Regions from separate parts of the Homo sapiens genome. Here region 2 is linked to region 1. The links come from fine-mapping of genetic effects on gene expression. A gene starts in region 1. The other region holds a variant in brackets. All regions are shown on one strand. Distances are between the middles of the regions.

Region 1 (5,374 bases):
TTCACGCCATTCTCCTGCCTCAGCCTCCCGAGTAGCTGGGACTACAGGCGCCCGCCACCACGCCCGGCTAATTTTTTGTATTTTTAGTAGAGACGGGGTTTCACCTTGTTAGCCAGGATGGTCTCGATCTCCTGACCTCATGATCCACCCGCCTCGGCCTCCCAAAGTGCTGGGATTACAGGTGTGAGCCACCGCGCCCGGCCAAATAATAAGTCTTGAAAGTTGAAATTACTCCTTGATCCATGGGCTGCAGAATGGATGTTGTGTTAACATATATGAAAACAACATTCATCTCCTTGTACATCTCCATCAGAACTTTTCAATGATCAGAGGTATTATCAATGAGCAGTAATATTTTGAAAGAAATCTTTTTTTCTGAGCAGTAGGTCTCAACCATGAGCTTAAAATATTCAGTAAATCATGCTGTAAACAAGTGTACTGTCATCTAGGCTTTGTTGTTCCATTTACAAAGCAGAGGCAGAGTAGATTAACATAATTCTTAAGTGCCCTAGGATTTTTGGAATGGTAAATGAGCACTGGCTTCAACTTAAAAGTCACCAGCTGTACTAGTTCCTAACTAGAGAGTCATCCTGTCCTTTGCACCTTTGAAATCAGATGCTGGCTTGTCCTCTCTACTAGGAAAGTCCTAGATGGCATCTCCTGCCAATAGAAGGCTGTTTTGTCTACATTGAAAATCTGTTGTTTAGAGTAGCCTCCTTCATCAATGATCTTAGCTACATCTTCCAACTAACTTGCTGCAGCTTCTATATCAGCACTTTCTGCTTCGCCTTGCACTTACATGTTATAGAGATGGCTTCCTTTCTTAAAGCTCATGAACCAACCTCTGCTAGCTTGAAACTTTTCTTCTGCAGCTTCATTACCTCTCTCAGCCTTCACAGAATTGAAGAGAGTTTGGGCCTGCTCTAGATTATGCTTTAGCTTTAGTGAATGTTGGTGCTGGTTTGATCTTCTATCCAGACCACAAAAACTTTCTCCATAACAGCAATAAGGCTGTTTTGCTTCCTTATCATTTGTATTTTCACTGGAGTAGCACTTATAATTTCCTTCAAGAACATCTCATATGCATTCAAAACTTGGCTAAATGGCACAAAATGCCTAGCTTTTGGTCTGTCTCAGCTTTCAACATACCTTCCTCACTAAGCTTAATCACTCCTACCTTTAAAGTAAGAGACCTGTGATTGTCCCTTGCACTCAAACACTTAGAGACCACTGTAGGGTTATTAGTTGGGCTAATTTCAATATTGTGGTGTCTCAGGGAATAGAGAGGGTTGGGGAGAGGAAAAGAGATAGAAGAATGGCTGGTCGGTGGAGTAGTCAGAACACATACAACATTTATTAATTGAGTTCCCTGTCTTATATGGGCACAGTTCATGGCACCCCAAAACAATTACAGTAGTCACATCAAAGATCAGTGGTCACAGATCACCATAACAGATATAATAATAATGATGAAAAAGTTTGAAATATTGAGAGAATTGCCACAATGTGACATAGAGACACAAAGTGAGCACATGCTGTTGGAAAAATGGCACCAATAGACTTGCTGGACACAGGGTTGCCACAAACCTTCAATTTGTAAAATAAAATAAAATTGAATTAAATGCAGTATCTACAAAGTGCAATAAAGCAAAGAACAATAAAACAAGGTATGCCTGCACTTTTTTCTATGAACCCCTTAACATGTGACACAAGAGCTCACTAAAGAGTGATTTAATTCTTCAGAACTGACACACGGAACTTAGACCCTAGGCCTTAAAGAAAACAGCCCAGCTTCAGGAAAGTCCACTTTTACTTTTACAGCCAGAAGAGTTTTCTTTGGCCACTACTTTTACTTTGAAAGCTATAGTCACAAGAAGCCATCTCTTTTTCCGCCGGTTTTAAAATTGTCTTGTTCTAGGTTTCACTTCACTGACAGAGACATAGCCAAAGAGATCAGCTTGTGAATATGATCATTCTTGACTTTCAGTTCTGTATTTCGTGCCCCTTTGCTCAAACTATGTCTCTCAGTTCTTCTCACTTGCTTCATTAAAATATTTTATATCTATTACTCTATTTTTTTAAAAAAAAACACTTTTGATATGTTCCTCCTTCACAGAAAAGAATGTGGCTACCTCAAACACTTTATTAGGATTCACTCATTTTTTATTACAGGAGGTTAAATAAAATTGGTATTATGATGGCCTCTGTATGGAAAATGTGTCGTTTTTAGAGTTCCGGCCACAGAAACTGACCTATGAACGGTTTTCTAAAGGAGAAGGGTGTGCCTGTGGAAAGTTCACGGCAACGGGAGTTTGACTCCTCTTAAGGTATGAAGAGGAAGACAGGCTAAAGTCTCAAGAAACTTCTGACTCAATAGGGGAAAGCTATCAAATTTCCCAAAAGTTGTGCGATTTTGGTTAGCACATCACAAAGGTGATGAGCAGCTCCTGAGAGTGAAACCCACATCCCATTTCTGGGGAGAACTACGTAGTTGGTTCCCTCTACATAAAATATCAGAGTCTACATCCTGACACCCATAAGAAACCTCTCCCACCTTTCTCTTACTAACCTTTTCTTCCATTCTCAGTTTACAATGACACACAATTTTGTTTCCCACAAGTACCGTTCAACCAGAGACACACACACTTACACATACGTATATATTTCATATATATATATATATATATATATATATATATATATATGTTTGGAGAGCAGGAAACGGGGGAGCCAAGGTCTGTTTGTACTCACAACTTTGGCTCAACTGTGCTGGGGTGGCTGGAGGTTTGACCACGGAGGAGGGGCCCGCTGGCAGCGCCAACCGGCTGAACTGTGCGCCTTTTCATAAAGGCCGAGGAACTGGGGTTAGCCACACTACAACCCTCCCACCTGAGGGAAAGGCCTGTTTGTTCTGGAAGGCACAGCCTAGCCTTATTTAACTAACTGCAAGCAGTTAATATAAGCATTCCCAAGGCAGCAAGCAAGCTCTAGTCTACGAAAGTAAAGCCATCGACTTTAGGAAGATTTCTCCAGTCCAGCATCCTGAAAGATGAAGCCCAGACTCCTCACCTGACGGTTAACCTGAAAACACCTGATCCTCTCTCCGGAATCCTTGCCTGGGGAAAACGATAAGGCTGCCGGGCCATGCCTCCTCCTTCAAAACTTTCCAGGGCTCTCGGGATTCGGAACAGGAAACACCGTTCACGGCCGACTCATTTCGCCCTCGCCGTAACGCGTCCGCCGAAGTTGGAGCCCTGCAAAGCGGGGTTCCCTTCTCTTACCCTTTCTGCCGGCCGCGTGGTGCGCGCAGACCCCGGCCCGAGAGCAGGCGCCGCAGTCGTGGAGTGCGGCGGGCAGTTCTCGGGCGGCTGAAAGGCGGCTCTGTGTGCACCCTGCAGGATGCGGCGCGTGGCCAGGCGCTCCCGCCCCGCCCCCAAGGGGCTGCCCCGCCCCGCCCCGCCCCGCCGCCTCCTACCGGGGACCGGAGCTTCCCCAGTTGGGGTCCTAGGGGACTTATTCCACGCTTCAGCGGACCAGCCTCCCCGCGCTCCCGGAGAAGGGGGTCGGCGACGCGGAGGCGGGGTGGGGGCCGTAGGGGATGGAACCGAGGCGCGCGCGAGAAGAGCCGAGGAAGTAAGCAGTCCCAAAAGGGGGCGGCGGTGGGGCCCCCAGGGAGGCGTGGGGCACGCCAAGGGCGCCGTGGGGCACTGACCTGTGGTGCGGCCCCCAGGACAGGCCCGAGGCGCGGTTGCACACCGGCAGGTCCAGCACCTCCATGCCTCGAGGCATGGCGCGGCCAGGGAGCGGCAGGAGGACACCTAGCGTGGGACGGCTACACCTGTCTGGGCGCAGGCCCGCCGCCCTTGCACTCTCCACCCAAGTGCCCAACGCTGCGGTACGGCCCGCTTTGGCTCGGGGTGTCTGCCGGAGAAGCGCCTTACAGAGGGACCCGGGCGGTGGGCCCTGCGGCAAAGTGGCCCACGCACCCTCCACACCGCTCCCGGGCGGCCGCACCTGGCACTCCCGGCCCTCTGGGGTTCCTGCCTTTTTCGGGGGGGTGGTGGTGAGACCGGGTCTCACTCTGTCGCCTGACCTGCGATCACTGCTGACTGCAGTCTTGAACTCCTGGACCCAAGCGATTCTCCTGCCTCCGCCTCCCAAAGTGCTAGGATTACAGGTGTAAGCCGCTGCGCCTGGCCCCTTCTTTTCTTCACTCTCTCATGCATTCATTTCTTGTTTCCACATGCATTAATTTGTCCGTTGCTTTGGTCATTCCTGTTTTGATGCTTAGGGAAACACTCACTGAGAGCCAAGCCGACCGTTGGGTACTGTGGTCTCTGGGATGACAAAGACATGGTCCTTTCCCTTGAGGACTTCACATTAAACTGACAAGTTCATTCATTCTGGCTTTTCTCTAAAGTGCACGATCATGAAAGTCTGTGACAAGGGCCATATTTCTGAGATGTTAGAAAGTGCGACCGGCGCGCAAGGAATAGGAAAAGCGAGTTGCCCTGCGCCCGCGTCGGGATGAAAGGCAGGGAGCCGGGAGGGAGCGTCAGCGTGGCCCGGCGGGCGCGGAGGGAGGGCGCACGGCCCCAGGGCTGGACTCGTAACCCCAGCGCCCTGCTGCAGCCGCCGTTGCTTTTCCCTCTTGGTGCACGAAAGGAAGACGCCTGTGGGAAATCGAACAGACAATCGGTCGCCGTTCGTGAATCTTAGAGATGAGAGTCGTCAGTACATGACCAAAAGCCGTGTTCGGCTCCTAGTGATGTTAGCTTGGTAGTTTGGACGTGGCCGACAGCCTCCTAGAGCTCGTACCCCTCCTTTTCACGAGGTAGCAGCAGCAAAGTCCGCAGTGCCAGGCTCTGTGAGTCTGCAAGCGTTTAAAAGATCTCCGGGTTTAGCTCAGGCAAAGAATATTCTGCCAGGTAATTATTTTAATATGCGTGTCCAGGCAGAAGCAGTTGGACAGACGATGTATATAAAAGCACACATAATTGACCCTCTTTTAAGGCACTTCCAAGGGGTTATTAGGCAGAAATGCCTTGGTTTTGAGCCCCTTTCATCGGAGGTGCGCAATCATCCAGCTTTGTGAATAGTAACTGCACTCCAGCCTGGGCAACATAGTAAGACCCCAACCTTTTGGCACCAGGGACTGGTTCCATGGAAGATGATATTTTCCACGGACAGGTGGGGGGATGAGGGGAGGATGTTTTCGGGATGAAACTGTTGCACCTTAGATCAGTAGGCATTAGAGTCTTATAAGGAGCACACAACCTGCAACTTAGATCCATCGCATGCGCAGTTCACAGTAGGGCTTCTGCCCCTATGAGAATCGAGTGGAACCGCTGCTCTCTTGCTCAATGTTCACTTC
Region 2 (5,374 bases), 65 kb before region 1:
TAAATCTTTCACTTGTTCCATAGGGCTGCATGACAAAACATTTAACAACCTCCCAGGACTTTGTGTGGCACAAACCAAGGTCCAAACACCAAAGACCTATCGTTTACTTTTTAGAATTCATGACTACATTTTTCAATGAAGTTTATCCCCCTTATAGTAAAAAAGAGATTTTGAGAGACTTTCCTTATACAAGGTACCTCTTAGGAGGCAGCTGCCTATTAAGAAAATTAATTTCCTTTATCCCAGCTTTCACAGCAACAATTTAATGCTCTGAGAAAAAAAGGTGTGATTCTGAAAACAACTCTTCTCAGATCTCATTTTCTATTTACCAGACATTCTCTGGATCTGCTCAGTCATATCATTGTAAGTCCCAAGATGCTGTATGAATTGATTAACAGAAAAATGCATCCTGTGGTTTTAAATAGCAATTATGTTCTCATAGCTTCCTTCAGGAATTTGGGTTACAGAGTCCTTCCAAAAAGAAAAAACATATGTAGGGTATACTTTTAGTTACAAACTGGCACCCCTGACTTCAGATGAAAGCAAACATAGGCACATTAAAAAAAAAATTGTCTTCACCTGACCCCATTCTAGTCCACAAATCACTATGTAATATGCTTTGTCCACTGAGGTCTAGACCATTTCTCTACATGTCCTGACGAACAACAGGCAAAGCACAGCTAGGCAAGGAAGAGCTACTGGTGTGCACGGATAAGCAAGCACTTGGACAGCCTCTTCGCAAGGAAGTTTCCTGCTCTCATCAAGAAAGATTGCTTGTACCACATACTGTGAAAAGGGAAAACACCTCTGACACTCCCAGAGTTTCACCTCTAAAAATAAGAGCTTTGACCTCTTACTTGGGCCACTTAAGAGTTCAGCCTCTTGACTTTAAGGACATAATTTATGCCTTCTCTTAAGAGTCTTATAGTATTTCTAAGAGATTCCAATCACATCGTGTAGCTTTCTACATAACCCTGTTTTAGAAGAAATAATTCATTTCTAAAGCCAATTTCAGTGGGAGGAAAGAAAAGAAAGGTGAATTATTTCCCATGATAAGCTGGTCTCTGAATGTAATGGTAATCTTGGAGGGGCTCTTTCTTAAGACAACAGAACAGCCCATCTCAGGAGCATGGAGAATAAACATGATACTGACCTCCTCCGACAGCAGATGCAGGACAGGAAGGCTGAGGACTCTTTCTGATACTCTTCTTTGCTACTGCATTCCTTCAGGAATTCCTGCAAATCCGTTTCAGGAAACCCATTCTGTTGGAATTTCTTTAGAAAGTACACAATGTTGTTACCTTATTTATAAGGCATGAGAAATTGCTCTTTTGTCAACAAACCAAGCCCACCTTTGCTAAAATAAAACTCTCCCACATTGCTAGCTCAGATCCAAGAACTGATATTTACAATGATGAATCAATCTGTCAGTCCCAGAACACCAAGGCAGGGCCACTGTGGGAACAGAGAACAATCCAAAGAAAAACTTCAGAAAGAAAGCAGAGAAGAGCCAGGGAGAGGTTTTTTTTAAAAAAAAAAAAGGTAATGAAGGAAATAATCAAAAGTCAAATGTCTAGTCTGGGTATGATGGCTCATGCCTGTAATCCCAGCACTTTGGGAGGCCAAGAAGGGAGGATCGCTTGAGCCCAGGAGTTTGAGACTGGCCTGGGCAAGATGGTGAGACCCCATCTCTACAAAAAATACAAAAATTTTCTGGCCATGGTGGTGTGCACCTGTAGTCCCAGCTACTCTGGAGGCTGAGGCAGGAGGATCGACTGAGCCCTGGAGTTGGAGGCTATAATGAGGTAGGATTATACCACTGTCCTCCAGCCTGGGAAACAGAGCAAGACCCTCTCTCTTTTTTTAAAAAAAAAAAAAGTCTAAACTTTTAATGCTAACAGCAAGACTAGATGAGACCTCCCACTCCACACACACATTGGCAATGTAGACTCTGCTTGGAAAGTAATCATTATTTCCTCTACTTTTATGGAAGTTGGTCGCTTAGTGGAACAGAAGAGAGATTTTTTTCCAAGCAGACACAAAGACTCCCTCCCCTCATGCTTAATGAGATAACCTACTTCAACACTGAGGCTTGGCCCCCACCACGCAGAGACATTGCCACATCAAAGACATGAATCTCTGTGGCAGGAGTGTGCACCTCTTCCTTCTCCATGCAAACCCTGATGCGAGAGGCAACTACCATTCCCACCTGAACACTTACTTATCTTCCCACACACTCAAAAGGTAGCGGACTGGGTTTCTTCTGCATTATTCTGAGAAAGTGGTTAAGCAGAAAACAGCCCTGACAAAGGCACTGGCATGGCACCCCTGGTTTTTCAGTCACTGACCCTGAAGCAGGGTTTTCTAAGCATGACCATCTGCTGTGAATAAGGTACCAGCACCCAAGGAAGTGAAATTCCTTCAAGCCACAAATCAGTTAAATGGCCTAGTCTGAAAGGATACAGAACCCATCAGGTAGCTTAAGAAAGCAGGAAGCTAAACAGTCACAAAAGCCTTAGTTTTCATAATTTAAAGGAAGCCTGCACCATGCCAGTAGCTGTATTATCCAGTGTGAGTTGTAGCAATATCTGAGAGTTGTCAGGGTGCCGGTCACCTCTCATCCCTGAAACTTATGACTCAATCCTAAGTTCCAGGCAGCCACACTGGCAGGTATATCTGTCAGGGCTAAGACCAGCAGCCTGACTACCTGACTTACCCCATTCAACCCATGCTTACCCCATTTCCCTTTTCTTTCCCACCACCCCTCCAAACCAATCCACCCTGCTGTGGGTAACAGGGACAATGCCCTAAAATTCATCTCCAGCGTCTAAAAAGTTTGTCCACAAAACCTCAAAATCTGAACTGTAATATTTTAAGTTTTTAAAATGTGGTATTTTCCTATAATCTATATAGAATTTGCAGTGATTTTTTGGCAGCAAATTTTGATAATTACTTACCTTAATGGTGTCATAAGAATCTGTAATAAGTGCAATAAAAAGACTGAGAATCATATATATAAAAAGGCTGATGAAGGAATATAAATACAGACGACTGAACAGCCACACCAAGATGCTCTTCTGCTGGATTTGGGCAAAGGTTGCAAACATGTCATCACCGTTGACCAGAGAAAACAGACACTCAGCAACTGTGTTCAGATTTTCAAACTGTAGGGGGAAATAAAAACTAGTTTCTGAAATA[G/C]AGTATTCTAAAAAGCAGAGGATATCTAGTTAGCTTGTTTTGTTAACATTGTTTTTGTCATTGTAGTAGTGGTAACTTACTTATTTTAAGATGCTAGAACACCATAAGAAGTAGGAAAACATTATTCAAAAACCCCCTCTGGGCCAGGCACAGTGGCTCATCCCTACAATCCCAGCACTTTGGGAGGCCAAGGTTGGAGGATCACTTGAGCCCAGGAGTTTGAGACCAGCCTGGGAAAGATTACAAGACCCCATCTCTACAAAAAGTACAAAAATTATCTGGGCATGGTGATATGCCTGTAGTCCCAGCTATTCAGGAGGCTGGGGTGGGAGAATCTCTTGCATCCAGGAGGTTCAGGGTACAGTGAGCCAAGCTTCTGCCACTGCACTGCAGCCTGGGGGACACAGCGAGACCCTGTCTCTTTAAAACACACACACACACACACACACACCCCTCCATACTCTCAAAGTTAATCTCTTAACAATTCCCACAGTTTTTCCCTATGTACTTTTTATATATCTAAAACCAGGATCTAACAAGTTTAGATCCTGGTTTTTCTCCTAATTAACATAAGCATCTTCTTATGTTTTCTACACTTAGAGAGCATTTGTAGGTTTTGTTTGTTTGTTTGAGACAGAGTCTTACTCTGCCACCCAGGCTGGAGTGCAGTGCAATCCCAGCTCACTGCAACCTCTGCCTCCAGTGTTCAAGCGATTCTCATGTGTCGGCCTCCCAAATAGATGGGATTACAGGTGCCTGCCACCAAGCCCGGCTAATTTTTGTATTTTTTTGTAGAGATGGGGTTTCACCATGTTGGCCAGGCTGGTCTCGAACTCCTGGCCTCAGGTGATCCGCCCACCTCAGCCTCCCAAAGTGCTTGGATTACAGGCATGAGCCACTGTGCTCAGCTGGCATTTGTTATATAACAGACCATTCCTTGAAAATGCCAACAAAACAAAACTTTTCACCACCCTAACCAGAAAAATGAACTTTTTTTTCTAAATTGCCCTATTTCTGTCAGTGATTCCAATCTCCTACCAAAGAAACATTTACTCTGAAATAATTAAGTCCTTAAAACTCTGTGTTGAATTGATTACTCTTCCCCGCTTTCAGTCTTCTAAGGCCTGTCTGTTCCTATCACATGTTTCTCCAATCCACCCTTACTACTCTACTGTGATGTCAACACAAATTTCTGAATTATTAAAGAAACTTCCAAGGAAGTCTCTTTTACTCCAATCTCTTTACCCTCCCCAGTCAAAGCTGCAGTAAAACCTGTACTTTAAGAAGAAGGCTTTCAGGTCATTTCTCCCTTGTGAGATTATACAAAGTTTGGATGCAAAATAAAAATCTAAACCAAGAAGGTTGTGATAAGTTCCTCCTTTATGCAGCCTCATCACATCTCCTCCTTGACAGTATTAATATGCTGTGCTTATCTTCTCCTCCAACACCAGGCCCATCCCTACATTTTTCCCTCATGGAATTTATTCTCCTCACCTGCTCTATTCTTCTTTCTCTTCTCTGTGTCCAATTAAGCCAATGTTCAAGGGTCATTTCAGAGTGTACTTCAAGACCAAGTGCCCTGGTAGTTCTAGTCCTTTCTCTGCACTCCGTATCGGTAAGAATCACAGAATGAACTATGGTCTTCTAATTGTTTTTATACACACTTCCCTGTACTCCAACTAGATACAAACACCGTGCCTTACACTACCAGCCACGTGGCTGGACCAGGCAAGGTAAAGTTGGTGGCCAAGGGAGAAGGTCTACAAACGCACCCCAAACAAGGATCCCACCCATGGCTTTGCTGCATCAGCAAAAACTCTGATGAACTAAAGTCCTCCTCCAAAAAGACCTAGAGGAAATATCCAAATGAACAGATCACTTAACAATATGTAGATTATTTAACAGTAAAACAGGCGATTGCCAGAGTAAATATTTTCCATACGCTACACAAGCCTTAAAACATTGAAGTTAAAGCTGAAAACATTGACATTAAAGTTGGTTTCTATGGATGTCAACTACAACTCTGACAGCACCATTAATAATTCACATTTCTTAGTTTCTTTTGGAATCCAGTCAACTCCTTTCTCTAGTTTCAAGAACCCCTAACTCCAAGCACAACTGTCTGTGCTTCAGGTTTCAACTGCAAATAGCTAGTTTGTCAGTACATGTCACATTC

Evidence for each region. PIP is the estimated chance that this variant, and not a neighbour inherited with it, causes the effect.
Region 2: its variant is fine-mapped to the expression of MCOLN2 in whole blood (TOPMed, PIP above 0.99).

What each region holds. Positions count from the first base shown.
Region 1 is chr1:84,993,727-84,999,100 of GRCh38, forward strand. It overlaps MCOLN2 (mucolipin TRP cation channel 2), which reads right to left and starts at 3,387. Exons shown (of 14, transcript NM_153259.4): 1 at 3,070-3,387. The coding sequence starts at 3,146. RefSeq lists enhancers at 1,870-1,929, 4,250-5,121 and silencers at 2,730-2,779, 3,390-3,679.
Region 2 is chr1:84,928,405-84,933,778 of GRCh38, forward strand. MCOLN2 (mucolipin TRP cation channel 2) reads right to left here. Exons shown (of 14, transcript NM_153259.4): 12 at 2,958-3,164; 13 at 1,154-1,275. Among named protein-coding and RNA genes, the nearest start is that of LPAR3, 38 kb to the left of the region's middle. The variant G/C (reference allele first, on the strand shown) is at 3,199.